Regions from separate parts of the Homo sapiens genome. Here all the other regions are linked to region 2. The links come from fine-mapping of genetic effects on gene expression. A gene starts in region 2. Each other region holds a variant in brackets. All regions are shown on one strand. Distances are between the middles of the regions.

The links. PIP is the estimated chance that this variant, and not a neighbour inherited with it, causes the effect. A credible set is the group of variants that fine-mapping cannot tell apart.
Region 1: its variant is the best candidate, but not a certain one, in a credible set for the expression of FMNL1-DT in whole blood (TOPMed, PIP 0.58).
Region 3: its variant is the best candidate, but not a certain one, in a credible set for the expression of FMNL1-DT in whole blood (INTERVAL, PIP 0.64).

Annotation. Positions count from the first base shown.
Region 1 is chr17:45,272,979-45,279,258 of GRCh38, reverse strand. It overlaps MAP3K14 (mitogen-activated protein kinase kinase kinase 14), which reads left to right. Exons shown (of 16, transcript NM_003954.5): 7 at 4,666-4,795; 8 at 5,005-5,136; 9 at 5,652-5,756. Among named protein-coding and RNA genes, the nearest start is that of SPATA32, 14 kb to the right of the region's middle. RefSeq lists an enhancer at 5,292-6,266. The variant G/T (reference allele first, on the strand shown) is at 3,055.
Region 2 is chr17:45,218,437-45,224,716 of GRCh38, reverse strand. It overlaps FMNL1-DT (FMNL1 divergent transcript), which reads left to right and starts at 2,952. Exons shown (of 3, transcript NR_147507.1): 1 at 2,952-3,368; 2 at 4,263-4,449. It overlaps FMNL1 (formin like 1), which reads right to left and starts at 2,832. Exons shown (of 27, transcript NM_005892.4): 1 at 2,464-2,832. The coding sequence starts at 2,592. RefSeq lists enhancers at 238-287, 888-957, 1,293-1,793, 1,794-2,294 and silencers at 2,141-2,435, 2,358-2,467, 2,748-2,797, 2,808-3,257.
Region 3 is chr17:45,253,610-45,259,889 of GRCh38, reverse strand. SPATA32 (spermatogenesis associated 32) reads left to right here. Exons shown (of 5, transcript NM_152343.3): 2 at 2,683-2,737; 3 at 3,475-3,514; 4 at 3,817-4,775; 5 at 5,377-5,497. The coding sequence ends at 5,464. It overlaps MAP3K14-AS1 (MAP3K14 antisense RNA 1), which reads right to left. Exons shown (of 4, transcript NR_110326.1): 2 at 4,672-4,755. Among named protein-coding and RNA genes, the nearest start is that of SPATA32, 5.3 kb to the left of the region's middle. RefSeq lists an enhancer at 3,228-3,988. The variant A/G (reference allele first, on the strand shown) is at 2,604.

The DNA.
Region 1 (6,280 bases), 55 kb before region 2:
ACTCAGGAGGCTGAAGCAGGAGAATCGCTTGAACCCAGGAGGCGGAGGTTGCGGTGAGCCGAGATCACGCCATTGCACTCCAGCCCGGGCAACAAGAGCGAAACTCCGTTTCAAAAAAAAGAATACCAAAGAAAACAAGAGGGAAGTTCAAGGAGGAAAAAGTGATCCCCAGTGTTCAGTGTGCAGGCAATTGAGGGGAAGGAAGTGGCTTCTGTATCAGGCAGTAGGCTCATTGCTGACAGTGCTTCCACCTGGGGATGCTCAGTCCTAAGTGTATTTTAAAACATTAGCATGGATGCCAGGCACAGTGGCTCACACTTGTAATCTCAACATGTTGGAGGCCGAGGTGGGAGAATCACTTGAGCCTAGGAGTTCAAGACTAGCCTGGGCAATATGGCGAAACCCCATCTCTACAAAAATTAGCTGGGCATGGCACCTATAGTCTCAGCTACTTGGGAGGCTGAGATGGGAGGATCGCTTGAGCCCGGGAAGGTCGAGGCTGCAGTGAGCTGTGATTGTGCCACTGCACTCCAGCCTGGCCAACCAAGGGAGACCTTGTCTCAAAAAAAAAAAAAAAAAGTTCAGCATGGAAAGGCCTTCAGGAGGCAGAGTAGCTGGCAGCTCTGGAGTCAGGCTTGCCCGAGTAAAAGCGCTGCTGTGATCTCTTATACCCAGTGACCTTGGGCAAATTACTTGCCCAGGCTTCAGCTTCTTCATCTATAAAATGGGGATAATGATCCCACCAGCTTACAGGCTATTGTAAGATCTGAATAACTAATGCTTAGAAAGGGCTTTACCGGTGCCTGGGAAATGATAAGTGGGCATTAGATCTTAGTTCTCATGAATATCCTCATCGCAGTCCAGCCCCCTCATTTTACGGATGAGGAACACGGAAGTTCAGAGAGGAGGGGTGGCCAGACGGGCAGCCAGCTTGGCCTGGAAGGCTGGGCTGCTTTCTCCTCTGGCACCGACTTCTAAAGCACCTTGTATTTTGAAGTATCTCCTCCCACCTCTTTGGTCTGGGTGGTTGGAAATATTTTTAGCATGGACGGGACACTCTAAGAGGACTTACAGATTTCTGCAAAGTTAAAGCCAAGTTTCCCCAACTCTTTTGGATCACAGCCCTGTTAATATCTCAGTCATTGTTTCAGGGCAACCCAGGCCAAAACAAATACCCAACAGTTCTGTTTATGAAGCAGTGAGGTCGAATAATAAGTCTTTATCCTAACAACTTAGTAGCCATTTGAAAAGCGTGACATAAGTTGAAAGAAAAAGGGTCCTTCCATTTCCAAACCGCCAGATTATTAACGGGATGTATGCCTTGTTGCACATCTCAACCCTTGAAATCAGATAGGACACCACCACCTTCATATCCCACATTTTCTCCTTGAAGTACTTTTAATCACAGTGACCTGCAAAAACATAGCTTCATAGAGATACATTATCAAAGGGAATGTCACGTGCGTGATCGTACTTTGAAGCTGAACTGTCTCGAGCGAGTAGTTCACGCGGTGTCCTGCAGATACTGCGGTGGCCGTTTCCCTCAAATGTCAGATATCCATTTGGCGCCCTTCTGAGTTATCTGCAGTGCCCCGGGGTGCCTCAGCTCAGTTTGGGGGTGGTTAGGCTGAAGACATTTGCTAACAAGTCCTGTTGTTGAATTAGTTCCAACTCAGGTTCAGAGGCTTTTTAGAGCTGGAAACACTGGCAGAGTCAAAGTTCATGGGAGGTGATTAACCAAACCAGATATTAGGGAACCAGAAGGGCGACATTTTCCACTGATAGGCAAAAGTCCAAAAACCCCACAGTGTCAGGGCTGTTTGCCAAGTCAGCAAGTCTGTGAAGATCGCTTCCAAGCTGGTTCTGTTACTGCCAGCGCCCCCTGGCGATGCTACTCAAGGCTTACTTGAGAACCATCAGCAGCTAGGAAGGAGGACAAGTCTACTAAGCGGGGAGGGGGGAGGAATAGCATTAGGAGATATACCTAATGCTAAATGACAAGTTAATGGGTGCAGCACACCAACATGGCACATGTATACATATGTAACAAACCTGCACATTGTGCACATGTACCCTAAAACTTAAAGTATAATAATAAATAAAATTAAAAAAAAGAAGAAGAAGCCTAAGAGGCCGTGCGCAGTGGCTCACGCCTGTAATCCCAGCACTTTGGGAGGCTGAGGTGGGCGGATCATGAGGCCAGGAGTTCAAGACCAGCCTGGCCAACGTGGTGAAACTCTGTCTCTACTAAAAATACAAAAATTAGCTGGATGTGGTGGCACGTGCCTGTAATCCCAGCTACTCAGGAGGCTGAGGCACAAGAATCGCTTGAACCCAGGAGGCGGAGGTTGCAGTGAGCTGAGATATCACACCACTGCACTCCAGCCTGGTGACAGAGCGAGACTCTGTCTCAAAAAAAAAAAAAAAAAAAAAAAGAAGTCTAAGAGGCCGGGCACAGTGGCTCACGCCTGTAATCCCAGCACTTTGGGAGGCCAAGGTAGGCGGATCACCTGAGGTCAGGAGTTTAAGACCAGCCTGACCAACATGGTGAAACCCTGCCTCTACTAAAAATATGAAAAATTAGCTGTGCATAGTGGCAGGTGCCTGTAATCCCAGCTACTGGGGAGGCTGAGGCAGGAGAATTGCTTGAACCCAGGAGGCGGAGGTTGTAATTAGCTGAGATTGCGCCACTGCACTCCAGCCTGGGCGACACAGCGAGACTCTGTCTCAAAAAAAAAAAAGGTCTAAGTCAGTCTAAGTATCAGCTTCTCTGATGTGAGCTGGAGGAATTGGGGAGCTAGCACTTCCTGAGTGCCCACTGGTTGCCAGGCCTGGTGTCAGTTACCATCCTTCCAAATCCTTGCTCTACCCAGGAGCAGATACCACCGTCCCTGCTGTTTGCATGTGGAAATATGTGGATGGGAAGTCTGCTGCCTTGTTTTAAAAGGCGGAGCCAGGATCTAAGCCCAAGATGTTTATATCCAAGGCCTATTTCCTCCCACCAAGTTGCTGGTCCCTGCAGAAAGGAGTGGATGATCCCGGACCTGCCATTTG[G/T]CAGTGGGAGTGGCCTTGGCCACTCCCCAGAAGCCTCCTCAGAAGCCTCCTTAAGTTCCCAGATGCTGGGAGACAGCTGCAAACAGAATAAACACTGCTCTGTCTATGTGGATGTTTTAGTCCTCCGGGAAAGAAAAGTGTTGAGGCCGGGCATGGTGGCTCACGCCTGTAATCCTAGCACTTTGGGAGGCCAACGCAGGCAAATCACAAGGTTAGGAGTTTGAGACCAGCCTGGCCAGCATGGTGAAACCCCGTCTCTACTAAAAAATACAAAAATTATCTGGGCCTGGTGGCGCACACTTGTAGTCCCAGCTACTCGGGAGGCTGAGGCAGGAGAATTGCTTGAACCCGGGAGGCAGAGGTTGCAATGAATAGAGATCACGTCACTGTACTCCAGCCTGGGCGACAGAGCAAGACCTCTGTCTCAAAAAAAAAAAAAAAAAAGAAAAGAAAAGAAAAAAAAATGCACCCGATGGAGTCCAAATCTTGGTTCTTGACAGTCAGATAAGTCAAAAACCCAGCTTCTGAGAGTAGACATGGATGTTGATAAGCAAAAGGTCCCACATCCTAGAAATTGCCCAGAAATTTAGCTGGAGGAAAAAATGTTCTGCGTTTGGCAGATTTGAGGGCGGACAGCGTGCCAGCAGCCAGGATGACGAATGTAGGGGGTTTTTTGTTTTTTTGTTTGTTTTTTTGTGGGTTTTTTTTTGTTTTTTTTTTTTGAGATGGAGTCTCACTCTGTCGCCAGACTGGAGCGCAGTGGTGCGACCTCGGCTTATTGCGACCTTGGCTCATTGCAACCTCCGACTCCCAGGTTCAAGTGATTCTCCTGCCTCAGCCTCCCAAGTAGCTGGGATTACAGCCACGTGCCACCACACCCAGCTAATTTTTGTATTTTTAGTAGAGACAGGGTTTCGCCATGTTGGCCAAGATGGTCTTGATCTCCCGACCTCGATCTCCTTGATCCACCCGCCTCAGCCTCCCAAAGTGCTGAGATTACAGCCATGAGCCACCGCGCCCGGCTGGAATGTAGTGTTTTGTTTTGTTTTTTTAATTTTTTTTTTTTGAGACGGAGTCTCACTTTGTTGCCCAGGCTGGAGTGCACTGGCGCAATCTCAGCTCACTGCAAGCTCCGCCTCCTGGGTTCACGCCATTCTCCTGCCTCAGCCTCCCGAGTAGCTGGGACTACAGGCACCCGCCGCCACGCCCAGCTAATTTTTTTGTATTTTTTAGTAGAGACGGGGTTTCACTGTGTTAGCCAGGATGGTCTCGATCTCCTGACCTCGTGATCCACCCGCCTCGGCCTCCCAAAGTGCTGGGATTATAGGCATGAGCCACTGCGCCCGGTGCGGATGTAGTTTTTATGTGGCTGTTTTTGCACACAGGCAGCACTCCAGAACTTTAATTAAGTACAAGAAGTTGCTCCTGATACCAAGGGCACGGGATACACAATTTAGCCTCTGAGGGTCCAGCAGGCCCCCCAGGCCCCTGCATCACCACTGGAAACAGCAGCAGCCTCTGTGTGTGGAGCACTAGGGTGCTGACAGGATGCCAGGGACCCAGCTCTGGTCCCCTCACCCTGTCTTAACAGCTGCCTCTGGGCCCTTGCAGGTGCGGCTGGAAGTATTTCGGGCAGAGGAGCTGATGGCATGTGCAGGATTGACCTCACCCAGAATTGTCCCTTTGTATGGAGCTGTGAGAGAAGGGCCTTGGGTCAACATCTTCATGGAGCTGCTGGAAGGTAAGGAGCCAGGTCCCACTCTTTCTCCAAATTCAGGGCCAAGAGTTCCCCCCTGAGTCTTGCCCAAGTTGGCCTTGGTCACTGATCTATCCATTGTTAACCTCTTGACCCTGTGACCCTGCTTTCCACTGCCTGCCCTGTGCTCTTGCCCTTGGCTGGCATGGAGGCTCGGGCAAGTCCCATGTATAGCCTGGCCTTTGGTCTCCTAGGTGGCTCCCTGGGCCAGCTGGTCAAGGAGCAGGGCTGTCTCCCAGAGGACCGGGCCCTGTACTACCTGGGCCAGGCCCTGGAGGGTCTGGAATACCTCCACTCACGAAGGATTCTGCATGGGGACGTCAAAGGTAAGGCCCAGGCCCCACGGCCCTGATCCCCAGCAGGCTCTTCTCTCACACCATCCTGTCTGATCTCCTCTCAGTTCTGGGCTAGCCTGGTCATCCCCAGTAGCAGGCCCTGAGTCAGGCTGACAGGACTGTGCCTGTAGGAAGGGGAATGATGTTCTCCAACCCCTTAGCCAAGCACTGTAGTTTCTGGTAGACGGTGGCCACAGAGAACCGAAGGTCAAGCTCCCACCCACTGGTGACCCCTGGTATGGGGTCGGCGCAGGCGAGCAGAGTGGCAGCGTTCCCGAGTAAACCCTGCTCCTGTCCCTTTGCCCTCAGAGATCCTGCCTACCTCTAGCCTGAATTGATACCCTCCTCCCTTCCTCCACGATTAATGAAACTAATCAGAAGCAGCAGCTGCCACGTAGGGTCAGCCAGAAAATTACATCACTGGAGGGCAGGCCAAACCGAGCCAGGGTGGGCTGGGACCCGGCATGACTCACCTGTTCCTCTTCCTCCCCGGGGCGGCCTGGCAGCTGACAACGTGCTCCTGTCCAGCGATGGGAGCCACGCAGCCCTCTGTGACTTTGGCCATGCTGTGTGTCTTCAACCTGATGGCCTGGGAAAGTCCTTGCTCACAGGTAAGGCCCCCCACCAACTGCCGTGCCCCCCAATGCATTCATTCGCCAAATGCCTTCCATGCTTTCCAGAATGGGAATTGAGGTGTGAACACTTAGGTCCACCTGTGTGTTTAAGCCCCGCAACCAGCCTGGATGATTATCAGGGGTTTCTTTGTTACGCGTAAATGTGATAATAGATGTCAGGTGCTCATTGTCGATGCTCCTGTACACAGGGAAGAGAAGGGAAAGGCTGGTTGACTCTCCGTAGGTCCCAGGCCTTCTGCCTTGGAGTCCCCGTGGCTCCTACCTCTTGTCTGGCCTTTGCAGGGGAGTGCACTGCCAGCCTGTGACCCCAGCTCTCCTGCGCCTCTGAGCACGGTTGGCTGGAAGCACAGTGGGCAGGCTGACCAAGGGGCCTGGGCTCTAAAGTCAGTGAAATATCTTTCTTTAACTCCTCTGATTATTGAAATAATCCATGCCCACTGTGAAGTATAGAGTTAAGCATATAAAAGAGGCAGAGAACAGAATTCTCACCATGTCTCTTA
Region 2 (6,280 bases):
GCCCCCCACCACCCACCCTTGCATGGGAGAAGGGCTCCCTGCACCTCCTGTCTGGCTGTAAGTGGGGACACCCCTCACCCACAAGAGAGGTCCTACAGCCAGGAGAGGAAGGAGAGTTTGGGGTATCAGGATCCTATGCCCCACCAGGGACAAAAGGGGAAGGAAGAGGTTCCCTGGGGCCGCTGGACTACATCCCTGAGGGCAGGACTGTGCTTCTCCCATTGAGACTGGGGACCACTGATGGCGGTGGGCCCCTCCCCTCAGCAATCTAAGGTTCTTCTCCTCTTAGACACTGACCGAGGACAGGACTCAGCTCTGGCCATGGTGGTTCGGGTGGGGGTTCACATAGCGACCAACTCTGCGATACACACTGCCAGACCTGAGGGTTGAACCAACTCTTTAGCCCTGGGCAGCCTCAGGCAGAGGTCAAGGTTGTCACCCTGGGGCAAGCCTCATGCCCCTGCTGGTGGGGAATGAGAGGAACCAGGGTCTTAGCCAAGTGTCCTTAGATTGGGTTTAACCTGCCCACAACAGGATATAAGACAGGCTGAGCCACCCCGGGAAGAAGGTATAAACACACTGGGGTTCCTGGGCACCTGGTAGGGGGTAAGCCCTGGTGGGTGCTGCTACCCTAAATTTCTGCTAGGCACCTCCACTTTCTCCACCAGCACACCCTCTCTGACCCACCTGTGGGTGTCCCCCCTCCACATCCTGGTACTCAGGGACTCCCAGTGGCATTTAGTGTCAGACTCAGCCAATCACAGCCACAAATCCAAGCAGGGCAAACAAGTCCTACACACACATCAGAACCTCACCATTTGACTTGTGGATTTTCCCCTGGTCTGAATTATTCACAGGGCTCCTCCCCATCAGCGTGCTAAACAGAAGATTGGGGTCAGGACCTCACCCCAAGAGCCCACACCCGCGACCATAGACACACACTTGGCGGAAAGACAGACCCATGTCCCTCCAACCAGGTTGGCAGGGGTCCAAGGACCCACCACCAATGCAGGCTCTCCAGATGGCCCCCAGAGACTGTGTCTCCTCATTCTCCCCCCTCCCCCATCTGCTCAGCTCAGCTCAGCTTTGTGAAGTCCTATGCTTGGGGAGCGGGGAGCAGGGCAGGTGGAGAGATGGAGAAGTCAGGGGCCAGCCTGGTGTGAGGCGTCCCTCAGTGTCCCTGCCCTCCTCTAATCAAGCAAGGTGTCTTCACAAGGATGGATCCCTCGCCACCCCATAGCTCCTCCAAACTCCCCCCAGCCTTCTCTTGGGAGAGGACAGAAGCCAACATTTTCAGGAACTGTTAGGAGGTGACCCTCTGGAGCCATGCTGAGGATCTAGCACGTATGGCCTAATGACCAGCCAGGCGAGGGGAAATGATGTCAAGGAGATGGAGGGCCACCAACTGAGCCAGAACCCTCTGCGGCCTGTGTCTCCGTTGAGCCCCCACCCTCAGACCTGCAGGGACTGGGAAATGCATCTGGGAGAAGGCACAGCCTCATTTTGCCTGTCACCCAGCGTCCAGCAAGGGAAGGCTGACAGCAGGCAGGCCACCAGGCAATTAGTTAGAGGAGGGAGCCAGGGCCAGGGCGTCGGGGGTGGGGAGAGTGAGAGTGAGCAGCTCTTCCTCTCCCTACTTCTGCCTTATGCAGGGTCTTGGAGACCCCTGAGTCTGCTCTGGAGCCCCCACCCCACTGAACATGTTGACTGTTTCCAGGCTCGGCCTGAGCTGCTGGTTCCCTCCCAGAGACCTATTCCCCAGCGACCCCGCTCCAATTCCCCAGGTAGGCACAGAGGGGGGTGGTTCCAGATTTTGCTCCACCCCTAGCCTGGGCGACCCACCCGTCCTGACCCCACCCTCCCTCATCTTACTCCCTTCAGTGGCTTGGAAAGGATGCCCCAAGATAAAGACCCACAGGCACCCTGGCTCTGACATATGGCGGGGTAGAAACACAGATACCTCCTGGCCATGATCCGACAACCCCATTCCCCGCAGCCCAGGCGCCCAACAAATCAGGACCCAACACCTCCAGCAGGTCTCCCGCTCCCGGGAGGTTGTAACCCTTTCATCTTTGACTCCAGACACAGAAAGGCAGATGCCCCAGACCCGCGCCCGGTGGCTGGGCCTGCGTGCAGTGGGGAAGGGGGCGACCCGGGACCCCTGTGCGTGCCCCGCTCCCAACTTCTTCACAGGACATACTTGTTTAGACCTTAAGACCCAGCTGGGGTGGAGGCGTCTTAGGGAGGGAGACCGGGCGATAACTGAAGAAAGTTTTGGGGGGAGAGTGCTAAGTCACTCTGAAAAAAAGGCCACTGTCGCTCCCACCTCCTGGAGGGGGCAGCTGCCGGACCGGGGATCTCCAAGCGGCACCTGAGTCCCCGGGGGCGGGGACGCGCGCCCAGCCCCTGCCGCGCCCCTGCCGCCCCCCGCCCGCGCCCGACCCGCCTCCGGGTCGCACTCACCAGGGCGCGGTTGAACCTCTCCTCCAGCTCTCCGGCCGCGGGCATCGGCTGCTTGGGAGGCGCGGGCTGCTTGGGGGGCGGCGCGGCGGGGCCCGCGGGCTGCTCGGCGCTGCCGGCCGCGTTGCCCATGGTGGTCCCCACCCAGCCGGCCAGGCGCCTCCAGCCTCGGAAATCCAGCTTTCCGGGGGACGGGGACGAGGCTCCCGGCCCGGGCGGGGGCGAGGGGGCAGCGGCTGGCGGTGGCGGCGGGGGTCTCGGCAGCGGGGGGCGCTCGGCTCAGCGGCGCGCAGGGGCCGGAGCGCGGCGTCCCATCGGGGCGGCCCCGTCCGTGGGACCGGGCGGCGAGCTGCAGGGTTGGGGGAGGAAGTCAGGCTGCAGGCCGCCGGGGCCAGAGGGCTGGGCCGGGGGCAGGAAGCTGCGGCGCTGGCTCCCCCCTCGGCGATTTTCGAACTTCTGCTGTCGCTCCCCGTGCGCGCAAACCGCAGTTCGCCGCCGCCGCCGCCGGGCACCCAGCCCCAGGGGGGCGGGCTGGAGGGAGGGGGCGGGCGCTGGCCGGGGGACCCCCGCAACCATGGCGGGCGGGGAGTGGGCTGCCGAGCCGCTTCACCTGCCGCAGAGGGGGCGGCCGGCGCCGCTTCACCTGCCGGAGCGGGAGGCCACCGAGGCGAGGCCGAGGCGGCGGCGCGCTCGGCGGCGCCTCCGGGTCCTAGAACCGCATCCTCCCGCTCGCCTCGGGCGAGGGATTGGCCGGGTCTGGGTGAAGGGGATCACGGCCTGGGGATTGGAGGGGCACATCTTCTCCGCACCGAGGATCTCAGCGACTGCGAGCACGGCTCGGAGACCCACGGTGGTGCAGCGTTGGGGCGCCAGGGCTGCGTTCCCGTCTCGCGTCCCGGACTGAGAAGGTGGGAACCCCCTTCCAGGCCCCCCACCTTTTATTTCTCTCCTCCCCTGCTTAGCCCAGAGACGAGCTGAGGACGAGGGGGAGCCATCTCCAAACAGGAACTCCTAAACAGGGTGGGGGGCGCGGACGCAGGCCAGTGGAGACCCCCGCCACCTGTCCCACCTCGACCAACCGTGCGCCTGTGCAGGGCACCCCTACAGGTTTTAGAATGGGGGCACCTATGGAATATGGCAGGCTGCGAGAAGCTGGGCCCGCCAAGGTGGTCCCAAGGAGGAGTGGGGGGTTGCGGAAAGGAGGATGAGAGCCAGCCACAAGGCTGGAAAAGGAGTGGGCACCGCAGAGGAGGGAAAAAGAATCTTGACACTGTCACCGCCAGGGATCTAGGGGGGCCTCTTACCTTGGAGAATAACAATCTCTGATGTCTGCTAATTACAGAAATACTTTCAGAGCTCTTTCATTCATCCTGACAATGGCCAGAGAAGGTAGGTATTGGTAGCCTTATTTTAGAGATGGGGAAACTGAGGCTGAGAGTAGGTAAGTAAGCTGTCCAAGGGCACTCAGCTAACAAAGGACAGAAGCAAGCCTCCTCACTGTCTACCTCCAAAACCTACACTGGCTTGGAGTTGCTGTCCTGGCCCTCCACTGCCCATCTCATGTAGGACGGGAGAGTATGGGGGGCTGGGGTCCCATCTATAGCCTGAATTTGAGACTTTCAGTTGCTCCTCTCATTCCCCATTTAATTTGTGGGGATCCCCAACTGACCCCTCCCTACACTTCCAGGGCACTGAGGAGGGAGGGCCCGCTGAAGGAGCCCCGAATTATCTCTAGGCCAGGTCAGGAGCCATTAGTGTCCCCTCCCCTGACAGCATCCTCCTCCTTCTGCCCTCACATTCAGAGCCACTGACAAGACTTTAAGCAAGAGACGGAGAGTTAACATCTAATCTGGAGGAAGACCCTGGAAGGAGCCAGCCCCTTCCCCCAGGCTGACCTGGTTTAAGCCTTTCTTCTGCCAAGGTCACCAGCACCCCAGATGGGTGAGAGATGTGATCACTGGTTTCGTGGCCTGACCAAGGACCTCCAAGGTGAGTCAAAGCAGAATTCTCCTTGGGCATGCAGGGAAAATGATCCATTCCCTGCACACTGCCATATTCTCCTTCTCAGACAGACCAGAGCCTTGCCCTTGGGTCCTTGCCCTTGAGATTAGCTAGGACCTCCTCCTCTTCTTCTCCTTCTTTCTTCTTCTTCTTGTCTCTATAAGATAACTGTCGTGGAAGACTTTTTTTTTTCTTTTAAGATGGAGTCTCTCGCTGTTGCCCAGGCTGGAGTGCAGTGGCTCGGTCTCAGCTCACTGCAACCTCCACCTCCCAGGTCCAAGCAATTATCCAGTCTCAGCCTCCTCAGTAGCTGGGACCACAGGTGCGTGCCACCACACCCAGCTCATTTTTGTATTTTTAGTAGAGACGGGGTTTTGCTATGTTGACCAAGCTGGTCTCGAACTCCTGACCTCAAGTGATCCGCCTGCCTCGGCCTCCCAAAGTGCTGGGATTACAGGCATGAGGCACCCCGTCCAGCCTGGAAGACTTTTTTTTTTAATGAATAAAAACACATTTTTTTAAAGAATGGATTCCCTGATTCCTCAATGGCTGTCTCTTTCAATTGAACAATAAACCTTTACTTAGCATCAGCTACATGCCCATCACTGTGCTTGGTCCTGCAGATTCTGTGGCAGATGAGAAATGCCTTGGTCCTTGGGCTGCTTGCAGCCTAGCGAGGGACAGACTTTTAACCTCTCTAGGAGAGTGGCTGCTTCAAGTCATCCTATGGGACCAGCTGTTCATGCTTCCTCTTGCCCAGAACTACTTCTGTGAGAGGAAAAGAGAAGGGTAGGAGCGTGCCCTGCAGCTGGAAACCCAAGCCAGGCGGGGAGCCACGAATGCAGTAGTTATCAGACTGTATCTTCAATCCTGGGGGCTTCTCAAGCCATTGCCAGCCACTCTTCACCCAAGGCCTGGTGGAATAAAGCTGGGCTAAGTAACACCTCTTCTGTGGAAAATTATTGTTTCTGCAAGCCTATATTCATTCTCCCTCTCTCTCATGCTGATCAGAACTGTGAGTTACAAAAAAAATGAGAAGATGGAATCAATTATTACGTAGTAAATTTCATTTGCTTGGCAGGAGGTATCTTTCCCATCTTGGCCCACAGAGGAGGAAATCCTAGAAGGGATGACTGAAGCTTGGGACTAACACATTGGTGGATCTGTGCTACCCCCTGCTGGCCGTAGACGGTATGACAGCCAAGATAGGGCAAGGCTTCGAGGGGCGATGGATGGATTCACCGCAGCGGCGACATTTCTGGACTGTTGTCACCTTCAGTGCAGTCACTGGGAATATTCAGAACCCAGGTGATTGATAAGGTTTTCCCAGGGATCTCTTCTCTCCCCTTCACCATTACTCAGTAGGAGCTTCCTTAAAAACGGAAAACGAGAGGCCGGGCGCGGTGGCTCACGCCTGTAATCCCAGCACTTTGGGAGGCGGAGGCGGGCGGATCACGAGGTCAGGAGATCGAGACCATCCTGGCTAACACAACCCCGTCTCTACTTAAAATACAAAAAATTAGCCGGGCGTGGTGGCACGCGCCTGTAGTTCCAGCTACTCAGGAGGCTGAGGCAGGAGAATCGCTTGAACCCGGGAGGCAGAGGAGGTTGCAGTGAGCTGAGATGGCGCCACTGCACTCCAGCCTGGCCGACTGAGACTCCATCTCAAAAAAAAAAAAAAAAAAAGGAAAAAGGGGCCGGGCGCGGTGGCTCACGTCTATAATCCTAGCACTTTGGGAGACCAAGGCGGGCAGATCACGAGGTCAGGAATTTGAGACTAGTGTGGCCAACATGGTGAAACCCCATCTCTACTAAAAAT
Region 3 (6,280 bases), 35 kb before region 2:
AATATATCACAACCAAATGAGGTTTATCCCAGTAACGCAAGGCTGATTTAACATTTTAAAAAATAAATTTATAGCTGGGCATGGTAGCTCACACCTATAATCTAGCACTTTGGGAGGCCACGGCAGGTGGATAGCTTGAGCCCAGGAGTTCAAGACCAGCCTGGGCAATATAACAAGACCCATCTCTACAAAAAATACAAAAATTAGCTGGGGGTGGTGGTGAACACGTGTAGTCCCAGCTACTCCAGAGGTGAGGTGGAAGGATCACTTGAGACAGGGAGGTTGAGGTTGCTGAAATTGCGCCACTGAACTCCAGCCTGGGCAACAGAGTGAGACCCTGTCTCAAAAAAAACAATGTATTTTACCATAAACAGAATATAAAAATATAAAAGAATTATCACTCAAATAATATAACATTACTCATATGTTAATGTATTATAACGTATGTTATGTATAACATATATAATATCATATTAAAGAAAAACCATATGATCATCTCAATAAATGCAGAAAAAGCATTAGGCAAAATCCAGCATCCATTCCTAATTAAAACTAAGCAATCTAAGAGACGAAACTTCACAAAGATGCCCAAGCTAATGAAAGGCATCATGAAGAAACCTACAGCTAGCATCATCCTTAATGGTGAAAGGCTAAACACTTTCCCCTAAGCTCAGAACGAAGCGAGGATGTACACACGCACTCCTACTCAACATTGTATGGAGATTGTCCCCAGTGCAATTAGGCAAGTAAAGAAAATAAGAGGAACCAGATTGGGAGGGAAGAAGTAAAAGTGTCTTGACTCACACACATTATTGTCTATGTAGAAAATCCGATAGAATCTAAAAGAAAAAAAAAGCTATGAGAACAAATAAGATTTTAGTATAGTTGCAGGATACAAAAGATGGATATATTTCTGTATACTAGCAACAAACCACTGGAAATTGAAATTATTTCGGCCAGGCACGGTGGCTCATGCCTGTAATCCCAGCACTTTGGGAGGCCGAGGCAGGCAGATCATTTGAGGCCAGGAGTTTGAGATCAGCCTGGCCAAAATGGTGAAACCCCATCTCTACTAAAAATACAAAAAGTGAGCTGGGCGTCGTGGCGCATGCCTATAATCCCAGCTGCTCAGGAGGCTGAGTCAGGAGAATCGCTTGATCTCAGGAGGCGGAGGTTACAGTGAGCCGAGATCACACCACTACACTCCAGCGTGGGTGACAGAGTGAGACCCTGCCTCAAAAAAAATTATTTCAATTATTTCATATACTGCAGAATATCACTTGAATCCCTAATAGAACATTCTCAAGTCAGGCAACGAGGTCCCAAGCTGAGTCAATGTCTGACTTTTTCTCCCAGCCCCCAGTGCTGTTAAGAGGCTCACACAACAGTAATTTCTTCTCCTGTCCATACCCAGCTGCCGTTTATGGAGGGGTTGAGGCTGTGGGTGTTGATTAAACTGCCCAGGGAAATTCTGTAAAGGGAGCAAAGGCCCTGAGGTCAGAAGCCTGGGGGAACAGCAGGACCTGGGACAGGGGGAGTTGGAGAGGGAGAAGAGAGACACGTGAGGAAGCCAGGGAAGCATAGTGGTCAAGGAGGTGGAGGGTTCTGAAGAGATCATTGAGCCGGCCACTCTGCTGATACATCCCCCAAGACCAGGCTGAAGCAGATGGTCCCAATCCCAAGACCAGCCATGCAAGGACCCCTCCCTCCAGCCACTACATCTCTAGGAAGAGACCGCAGTACATTCTCATCCTTCCAATATGATCCTGGGAGCGATTCTTCCCAGCCAGAGCCAGGGCTGTCACTTCCTGCCATACCCCAGGCTGATGGGGACCCACCTTGCATGATGGCAGGGTTGTCATGATGGCCCCACCATCAACCCCTATGCATGGCCCTGGGTAGCAGAGAACAGGGCAGCCTGGTGCTTCCCACTCCCACAGGGTGAAGAAACAGCTTCTGCAGTAAAAGATACAAGCCTCCAGGGAGGGGTTTGGGGTTGCGGACGTTCCCAAGGAGTCAGTCTCCCCTGCAGAGGGTGATCTGAGCTCATAAATCGTCGGATAGGTGCTAGCACCACCTCAGATTACACACCTGGGGTGCAGGCCTTGGCCTGGAGTCAGTGATGGATGACCCAGAGAGAGGAGAGGAAGCCGGCAGAGGAGCAGGAATGGGGAGATGGGGGAGGTTCACATGGGGCGTTATTGGGACTCCACGCAGTTACAGGGTCCTGGGAGTAGCCGGTGGGGGCAGGGAGTTAAGAGTTTCCTGAGTCAAGCCTGCATTCAAGTCATCACTTCAGCTATGTTCAGCTGGGGGACCTTGGGCAAATGGACCTGTCCTAATTTTTTGTGTTGAATCAGTGAGATAAAGCAGGTAAAGTGACCAGGCTATGGAAGCGCTCTGTCATGTTCAGGGTACTGTTAGCAGTCACGGTTTTGGGGGATGGAGATGGAACCGGGAGCCTCCGAGGAGGCAAGGCACAGACGGAGAGTGGAGGGAGCAGGACTGGAGGATAGGAATGGCGACCGGCTCGGGAACAAGGAGAGCGGGGCAGGACGGTGAGGGGGAATAGCAGCCGGGAAGAGAGAAAAGAAGGGCAGGAA[A/G]AGGGGGCTGGCTCCGGAATCCCTCTGGGACTGTCCTCTACCCTGCAGCTCCCTGCCCTCACCTCCTTTCCCCTGTCAGGTGCCCATGGATTTCCATGCTGCGGCAAAGGGTCAGTGGAGGTTGCAGAGATGCGGTGAGAACCATCCTCAATCAACGTAGGGCCTCCCCCGAGCCCTCCAGGACCTCCGACCTCACCCCCAGCCTAGGATCCCCCAGCCTAGGATCTCCCTCCCTTCTGCCATTTCCAAAACCTCCCCGGGGCCAGTGTCCAGGCCAAAAGGCTGGGGAGGGCGTGGGGCGCCTATCCTCCCACTTCTGTTTATGCCCTCAGCCCCTGGCATGAGAGGAAGACTGAGGGGTGGTGGGGCACACCCAGGGACAGGATAGGACCTGACCCCTCAGAGCTGCCTGGCTTGCTGAGGACAGAGCTGCTCAAGGCGGGGGTGGGCAGGCACTTGAAGAAAGAGTGGGCAGGTGGGTGGGAGGACATTGCTCTGGGGCTCCCCTGCTGGGGACTAGTGTTCTGGGCACTAATCCTCGAAGTGAGTTGCCCCAGCTCACCTGCAGTGCTTGATAAAAATGAGATTCCTGGGCCTTACCTCCAACCAACTGGATTCCTCTTTGGGGGTGGGGCATGAGTTGGCAAGCAGCTTCCTAAACTCACTAAAGTTTCAGAATACAACCGCAGACTTCCTGGTGGCAGTGGAGTGGGACAGCAGGGGAGTGGATGAGCTGGTGGCGGGGTGGTCGGCGGGAGGTGCATCGTGCCAGCTTCTGTTACAAGGCAGAGGGCTTTGAGGGCCCCAGAAACCCCCTTCCCGCTGAAGCCCCACAGATCCCCATCACCCACTCTGTCTTCTTCTGTCTTAGAGATGACTTAAGTCAACACCAGATACAAGAGGAACAGGAGGTAAAAATGGGAGTGTCCTCTTACGGGGAGGTGGTAGGCAAGCGGCAGGGCTCTTCCCTAAGTCCCCACCAGCCCCTACCCTTGACAATCCTGGGACCCTAGTACCAGGCCGGTGTGGGTACACCCACACACACACCCCCTCACCGGGCAGGTCTCTGAGAGGAGGCAGGCATGGGGTTAGGGGGCGGGGGGAAGACAGCAGGACCCAGGGCAGGGGTGGGGCAGGGACTCGGTGCCAGGGAGGGCCTCAGGGGCAGGACCTCCCGCTCCTGCCTCCTCAGCTTTGAGTTGAAACATTTCAGCTGGAGGCAGACATGCTAGAGCAGAAGCCCCAACTCCAAGTGGACCTGGACCTGGACCCAGACCCAGACCCAGACCCAGAACTGGAGATCGGACAGGTGCCGGCTTTACTGGAGTCAGAGCTATACCCAGCCCTCAAGCTTGAAGCTGAGCTGGACACGGAAGCCAACTCGAACGAGGAGTCTGACTTTGAAGAACCCATGCAGCTGGTATGCAAGATAGAGTCCGTCCACTCCAACATGGGGCTGCCCACGCCACAGACCTTCAGACCGTGGAGTCTGAATTCAAACTGCCGGAGTTTCACGGAGGAGAACCACGTGTCTGCCTGCCATCACTCCATCAGTGCGCAGACCTCCAAGCACCTCTTCTGGGCAAACAAGCTCATCCAGGCCTCAGAGCACAGCCTGCAGCGGGCCATCAACATGCAGCTCAACAATGGCAGCGCAGGCCAGCCCATCAGATCCCCGCTCCGGGAGGCCATCCCCACCAACGCCCTGTGCTCCGAGGAGCAGCTCCAGATCCCTGATGCCCACTCAGCTCCTCCAACCACAAGCTCCCAGGCACCAAGCCCCCTCCTGTCCTCAGATCTCCCGCCACCCATTGACCTGACAGAGCTAATCACCTTTGCATCTTCCCTGGCCATGGCCTCCTCCAGCAGGATGGACCTGCCCAGTTTGGAACACATGATGAAAGCTCCACCCCAGGAGGCTCTGGAGCCTTCCACAGAGCCCCTCCTGACCACTGTGGAGGAGCGAGAGCCAGAAAATCACGCAGAGACCCTGCCAGAGAAACCACGCGAAGCCAGAGCACCACTGAAATCTTGGAGTCAGGAAGACAAGAACTTCGCTCAATCTTACTTTGACTTCAGCAAGCCGGGGATCAAGAGGGCCACCATCAAAGGGCAAATCCAGCTTCTCCAGCCACCAGCCACGTCCCCTCTGCTGCAGGGAAGCAAGGAAGAGTGAGTGAGGCCAGCCCCGCAGCTCCCATAGAGGGGCTGTGCTAGAACGTGGCAGGGGTCCTCACACAGCTGGGTAGGGGTGGGGAACAGTGGAATGAGGGCCTGGGAGCAGGATGTGGTGGGCTGTGACGCCTCCACCTCAGTGACCTCATAAAGGCTGTTGGAACGAGGTTCCAGTGGACTGAGGCGCAGAGCCAAGGCGAGGGCTGGAGGAGGCCTGGGGACCAAGGAGGGTGGGCACAGGGGCCTGGGTTCAAAATGGGAAGGACCACACTGGCATTAGGCGGCTTTCCACCCTGGGGGTCGGGCCTCACCAAGGTTGGGAATGCTCAGGCTGGGGTCTGCCCTGTTGAAAGCCTGTTGGCCCCAACCCTGGGGTCCAGGACACTTTTCTTGAGGGGAGAATGAGGGTGCAGGGCTCTCCAGTACACCTTGCTTTCTGGTAGTGAATGGACACAGAATGTAATCTCAGCTGCCCAGACGCGGGCAGCAGCAGAAGACCCCTTACCCCCAGCGACCTCTTCAGAGGGGCCTCTGGGCTCACCCCTCTCCTTCAACCACCCTCTGGGGCCCAAGTGACACTCTCTCTTTTGTGTTGCAGCTCAGTGCCGCCAGGAAAAGAGAAAGAGAATCCATTATTGGTGAAAATCCATTTTAAGCTGTCAGCCCCCACAATCCCAGAGAAATGACTAGACAGAACCAATAAAGCCTCCAGTGCTGGCCGTCGGCTTAGACTTTTGTGCAAATGCCCCTGGGCCAGGGAGCCCTCCTGGCTGCTGTGTCCTCGTCTGTTTTTTAGGGATGCCACCCCATTTTTTAGCTGCCCCAGCTCCACCTGCCCCCAGAGGGCAATGCCACCCTTGTCCTGGCCACCCATCTCTCACCTGCCCACTCCCCAGGGTCAATTCCCTTCACTCCCTCCTGGCCAGCCCTCTAGGCCAGCAGAAAGACTTGTGGCTGGTCTTGGGGAGACCTCGGTGTCCTGTGAGGCTTCCATTTCTTAGACTGTGAAATGAGGCTTCCTCTTGGCCTGAGGCCAGGGATGTGTTGGGATCATCTGAGGAGATGGCCTTCTGGGCGTGGACTGGGCAGGTGAGAAAGTGGGTCTGAGGGGGTTCTTCCTGCGCTCTTCATGGGGAAGAGCTGGCATGGGGAAGGGATGGTGTCCAGGAGCTTGAAGGGGAGGAAAATGAGGCCGAAGAACTGGTCCTCCAGAGGGTCACAGGCTGGAGCTAGACGTACCTCCAAATGCAGGAGAGCCATAGATCACCCAGACATGTGCACACAGACACCACCAGCTGCCCGGCACATCACACATACAGCACCCACACACAGAGGAAGCAGCACATGCCACACATGCCCATGTACACATGTGCCTGTGACAGTCGCATGTACCAAACATGCACACAAAGCCGGGTGTGGTGTCTCACGCCTGTAATCCCAGCACTTTGGGAGGCAGAGGCCAGCAGATCACTTGAGGTCAGGAGTTCGAGACCAGTCTGGCT